2 separate regions of the Homo sapiens genome follow, and region 2 is linked to region 1. The links come from fine-mapping of genetic effects on gene expression. A gene starts in region 1. The other region holds a variant in brackets. All regions are shown on one strand. Distances are from middle to middle.

What was found. PIP is the estimated chance that this variant, and not a neighbour inherited with it, causes the effect. A credible set is the group of variants that fine-mapping cannot tell apart.
Region 2: its variant is the best candidate, but not a certain one, in a credible set for the expression of PCYOX1L in stomach (GTEx, PIP 0.67).

The regions. Positions count from the first base shown.
Region 1 is chr5:149,356,679-149,359,592 of GRCh38, forward strand. It overlaps PCYOX1L (prenylcysteine oxidase 1 like), which reads left to right and starts at 1,368. Exons shown (of 6, transcript NM_024028.4): 1 at 1,368-1,478. The coding sequence starts at 1,391. It overlaps GRPEL2-AS1 (GRPEL2 antisense RNA 1), which reads right to left and starts at 964. Exons shown (of 2, transcript NR_132366.1): 1 at 847-964. RefSeq lists an enhancer at 1,128-1,422 and silencers at 1,148-1,197, 1,218-1,377, 1,398-1,607.
Region 2 is chr5:149,390,498-149,393,411 of GRCh38, forward strand. It overlaps a transcript of IL17B not described here. Among named protein-coding and RNA genes, the nearest start is that of IL17B, 13 kb to the left of the region's middle. The variant G/A (reference allele first, on the strand shown) is at 1,353.

The sequences.
Region 1 (2,914 bases):
CCTGCCCCAGCCTCCCGAGTAGCTGGGATTACAGGCGCACACCACCAAGCCCAGCTAATTTTTGCATTTTAGCAGAGATGAGGTTTCACCATGATGGCCGAGCTGGTCTCGAACTCCTGACCTCAAGTGATCTGCCCACCTCGGCCTCCCAAACTGCTGGGATTACAGGCATGAGCCACTGTGCCCGGCCCAGTTTCTTATTTTAGCCATAATCTCACTGAGTAAATATGGATTTCATTTATTTTTATATATTTATTTATTTTTAAAGACAGGGACTCTTGTCACTCAGGCTGGAGTGCAGTGGCACAATCATAGAACACTGTAACCTCAAACTACCGGTCTCAAGCCTCCCACCTCTGCCTCCTGAATAGCTAGGACTACAGGTGTGCACCACCACTCCTGGCGAATTTTTTTTTTTTAAGAGACGGGGTCTCAGAGTCTCATTATGTTGCCCAGGCTGGTCTCAAACTGCTGGCCTAAGCGATCCTCCCGCCTGACCTTCCAAAATGCTGGGATTACAGGCTTGAGCCACCCCCAGCCTCCGGATTTTCTTTATTCTGAAACTCATCCCTAACTTTATTTTCTGCCAGAGGAAGTCTGTTTTTCACAGCGTGATAAACTAGCAAGTCTGAGCTGCTGCTCTTGTCTTCTTAGAGGATGAAAATGGGAGTTTATCCCTCCTTTTCTCCTTTCTGAAAAGAGAGTAGATGAAACCTTCCCCCGCCTTTTGGTTTTTAGGAAGCAGAAAGCAGAGATATTAACTATATAAAAACTGCAAACACATAAATAACAGCAGTATAGAAAGCATAGGGCTTGTGTCAGCATATGAATGAGGTAGCGTCTTACCACCCTGGCCGCATGCTTGGTCAGCAATTTCCAGCACTTGCAGACACTGCAAAAGGCTTCCCTTATCTCATAAGATGGTTACAACCACCTAGAAAGGTGGAGCAGGATTCTTCGTCTGTGTTATAATAGAGGAAACAGACACAGAGAAGATACAGAGCTAATAACGCAGAGGCTGGACATAACCGAGGTCTTCAAAGCTTCACTTTGGTCTGTTTCATCCCTCTGCCGCAGCTGGGCCCTGGTCCTGATGCTGAGGACCCGAAGCGGGCACACCTGCGCCGGGCAAGAATGAACCCAGCCAATGAGGAGCCCGCATGCGGGGGGCGGGGCGGAACGGGGAAGCTGCCAATGAGAGAGCCTACCCCGAGAGAGATGGAGCTAATGAGGGCCTCGTGCTGGAGAGGGACGGCGGCTTGGCCAATGCGGAGCTGGGTCTGGCGCGGCAGGAAGGCGGGACTGCCAGTGGGGCGCCGGGGCGGGGCGGAGAGCCGAGCGCCAACCCGCTAGCGCCTGAATCCGGCGTGCTGCCCGCTCGCCGCCCGCCATGGCCCGCGCAGCCCCGCTGCTCGCCGCGTTGACCGCGCTCCTCGCCGCCGCCGCTGCTGGCGGAGATGCCCCGCCGGGCAAAATCGGTGCGGGAAGGACGCGGTGGGGTTCCCAGCTGGGGAGGGCCGGCGGGTAAAGGGTTCTCAGTTCTCAGCTAGGTGGGGTATAGGAGGGCGGCTGGGTGAGGGAGGGGTCCTCGGAAAAGGAGCTGGGTGGAGGAGAGGCGCCGAAGGGGACGCGGCAGGGAAGGTCCTGATGGGGCCGGGGCATGGCATGTGAAGAGGGCCACCTAGGACGGAAAAGAGGCCTGGGCAGGACTGGCCGCGGATCTCACCGGGAGGTCCAGGGTCGCTGAGCATCTGCCATGGTCCTGGCTGTTGGCTAGGCGCCCGGGTGACAGAGGACAGAGAGGCTGGGCGATGGCATTCACAGAGGTTGGTTGAGGGCTCTCTGTGTAGCAGACGTGGTGCTGTAGTTCCTGCTGGGGTAGAGCCCTCACAGTACAGGGAAGTCCGTGCTGAGCTGAGGAAGTACGGTGCATGCAGAGGAGGGGCGCTTCACCCTGTCTTTGCGGCCCTGGGAGGGCTTCCTGGAAGTAACATCTAAGCCAAACCACCCCCAGGTCGATAGGAGACAGTCCTGGCAGAGACAGAACACTAGGTCCGCTGGAGATTTGCTGACAGAACGGGGAACTTTTAACAACAGTCTTTTTGTTTATTGTGTGTGTGGTTTCCCCAATACTTTATTTTGAAAATGTTCAGATGTACAGCAAGAATTTTATAGTGGTCATCTGTATACCCACCACCTACATTCTGCCATTAACTGCTGCTATACTTGCTGTGTCACATAACTATCACGCACTGTTCTAGACATCCACGAATCCAGCCTACATTTTGATGCATCTCCAAATAAATTGCAGACATCAGGACACCTCACTAAATACGTCATCGTGCATATCATTGACTAGAGTGTCATATGTGTTTACAGTTGCTTTTTTTTTTCCTCCCTCAACAACTGTCATTTTAACTACATGACTCGTGAAGATTTTCAAGTCCCTCACACGTGATATTCCCACAGGCAGAGATCCTGGGCTTCGGGGTGGGAGGACAAAGACTCTATTCCGCTAGGCCACTCTCCATGCACCCCAGTTGGCAGGAGTGCCTGGAACATCTGATAGAAGCATCACAAACTTACAGGGTCCAGTGCAGTGCTAAAGCTTCTTGTGTAGCAGAACCACAGCCCAGGCCATACAGGGTTAAGAAGACTGAAGCATGCCAGAAACCAGTTTGAGACTGAGAGTTTAGTGCTTGCCAAGAAAAGAGAATCCTGAGGCTAGAGTAGCCAGAGAAGCCCTCATGGAGAAGGTGGAGTTTGAGCCAGGCATTGAAGGATGTGGAAGAGTTAGGCAGGCAGTATCCATGAGTGACCATGTGTTCTCTCTCTGTCCTTAGATCGTTTGAATACAGTGTGGCTAGGAGTAAGCAGAGTGTGCTGTGGGAATATGCAGGGCACTCCCCGTTTT
Region 2 (2,914 bases), 34 kb after region 1:
CCTGGGCCCCCACCACTTAAGGAAACCCCCCCAAACCCTCATCATGTCCCAAGTTTTCCAAATCTCACAGCACCTCCATCCCTGAGTTAGCACACACACACACACACACACACACACACACACACACACACACAGAGATACACAAGGCCCTCCAAGTCCCTTCGCCAACCCAGCTCTGAAAACGCTTAAAGCTAGGTAAGTGATTTCCAAAGTAGGGTGTCATTTGAGGCTTAGGAAGACTATCAGGTCTTCTATTTTTACCTCTGTCTTTTCTCATTTCTATTTTTTATTTGTGTTAAAGGAACATATTAGTATAATAGCTCTTTATAGAATTTATAAATAAATATTTATTTTTAAAAATAACTTTAAATTAAAATTTTTTTAATAAACTGTTATTTATTGTTAGGAGTTTATGGTCAAAAAGGGTTGGGACCCCTGGACCAGGATTTTGGTTTTTTGTGGGGAGTTTTTCCTTTGTGTTTTGTTTTGTTTTGAGAGAACCTGATTCTGTCACCCAGGCTGGAGTACAATGGCGCTATCTCAGCTCACTGCAATCTCCACCTCCCAGGTTCAAGCCTCCCACCTCAGCCTCCTGAGTAGCTGGGATTACAGGCACCTGCCATCATCCCCAGCTAATTTTTGTATTTTTGTAGAGATGGGATTTTACCATGTTGGCCAGACTGGTCTTGAACTCCTGACCTCAGGTGATCTGCTCGTCTTGGCCTCCCAAACTGCTGGGATTACAGACGTGAGCCACTGCGCCCAGCGTTGGACCAGGATTTTGAACACAAAGCCTCTTAACTCTGGGTGGGATGGTCCCAGCCTGTCGGGACTGGGAAGAGCAGGGAGAAAGACACCCAGGCTTAGAGGCATGGAGAACCTCAGCCACGGGGGTGTCACCAAGTGACTGCCTGCCCCAGGCACAAAGTCTCTTTCCTTTAACACCAGGATAAAATGGCTTCAGTTCCCAACCCACACAATCAGAGAATGCAGGGAATTCTTCCCAATTTTAGAGTTTTAGGGGGCTTAAGTTTCTCCTAAATTAGTCCTTGGCACAGCCTGCTGTTTCACAGTGCTGGCTCCTGATTTGGGCTCCTGTCTCTGAGGCTACTACCCATTCCTCCAACCACTGGGCCCCCTAAGCACCTCTCCTTCATCTCTCAAGTGTCATTCCTGGGAATGCAATTCTGGAAGCATGGCAGGCCCGTCACTGAGCTGTCAGTGGAGGAGGGTGATTGAACTGTGTGCAATGGAGGACGGCGACTGGCCGGTGTGCAATAGAGGAGGGTGACTGACTGGTGTGCATGACTTCACCATTGGCTATAAGCTCTGCAAGCCTAAAGGTCACTGTC[G/A]TGACCCCAGGAACTTCTCATCGGCCTTGTCTCACATTAGTCCTCAGCCTCCTACAGTTCCCAGGCCTCCTCCTTCAAAGGATGTCCTCCTTTCTCCCCATGCCCTGCCCTCTTCCCCAGCTTCTCATCCCCTTACTCTCTCTCCCAGGCTGCCTGGAGAAACTCAAAATTTCTGTGACACAGGCCTCTTGTACATTGCAAGTGGGAGTACACAATGGTTACAACCTCCATGAGGGAGGTGGGTAACGGGATAGAGTAATATCTATGAGAATCACAAATGCACAAGGACTTTGATCCAACAATCGCTCTTCTACGCCTTTGTCCAACAGAGGCAGCCCCATGTGGAAATGACACAAAGACCAGGACAGGCTTTGCAGCATTGTTTGTAATCACAAAGGACTTTTACTTCTATCTTTTCTAATTTCTATCTTGTATTTGTGTTAAAGGAATCTGTTAGTACAATAGCATCCTCAAAGTGCTCATCCTTATAGGATGGGTTGCATGACTTATGGCACTTCCGTGCAGTGGAACCCTATCCAACCATTCAAAGAATGAGGCAGCCCGCTGTAGAATGATACACTCCAATAGCCAATAGCTGTTATTAAGTAAATGAAGTAAGGTGCATAAGAATGTGAATAGTACACCCCAATCTGTACCCCAAAAATGCAGGGACTGTACATATGTATACTTGTAAGTGTATGTGCTTGCATTTGCATAGACTCTCTGGAAGTCTATATAAAAATTTAGAGTGATTTTCTCTGGGGAGGGGAATGGGTTGATAAGGGAGTGGGGTTAGAAGGGAAGTTACTCTTCACAGAACACCCTTTGTACCTCTGTGATGGTGACAATGTATAGATATTATCTATTCAAACAATAAATACTATTTTTAAATGAAAACATAAATTGCTGTTACTGTATGCTGTGGATCATTTCATTCTCTCTCTTTCTCTCCCTCTGGAGGCTGGGCCCAAGAGGCCTTACCTTTGAGTCAATAACGTCATCTAGAAGTGAGTCATGTCTTACCCTCTAAGGCTGAAACAACCACAGTCTCTGCATCTGTGTACGTGTGTGTGCATGTGTGTGTACGTGCGTGTGTGCGTGCGTGTGTGCGTGTGTGTGCGCGCGTGCGTGTGTGTGTGCGTGTGTGTGCTGCGTGTGTGCATGTCTGCGTGTGTGTGGGCGTGTGTGTGCGTGTGTGTGCGCATGTGTGTCTGCGTGTGTGAGATTGTTTTCCCCTTTCCTTCCTCAGCAGCAAGTTACCTAACCCGTTTATTGTACAAATAGAAAAACTGAGGCCCAATCACCCACCCAATGTCACCCAGAAAGTCATCCTCTGAGTGGCTCTGAATCCAGCCTCTGGGCTTTGACTTATGCTGTTCCCTTTGCTTCAATGCCCTTCTCTGCCGTTTTTACTCTTCAGGTCGCAGTGCACGCTTCCAAGAAGCTTCCCAGATCCCTCAGTAGGAAATGAGCTTTCAGTGTGCCCTATGCATCCCTGTGGCTCCGTACAAATTAGCAATTGGCTCTTTACCTACCTGCCTTCCCCAACAGAGGGTGGACGT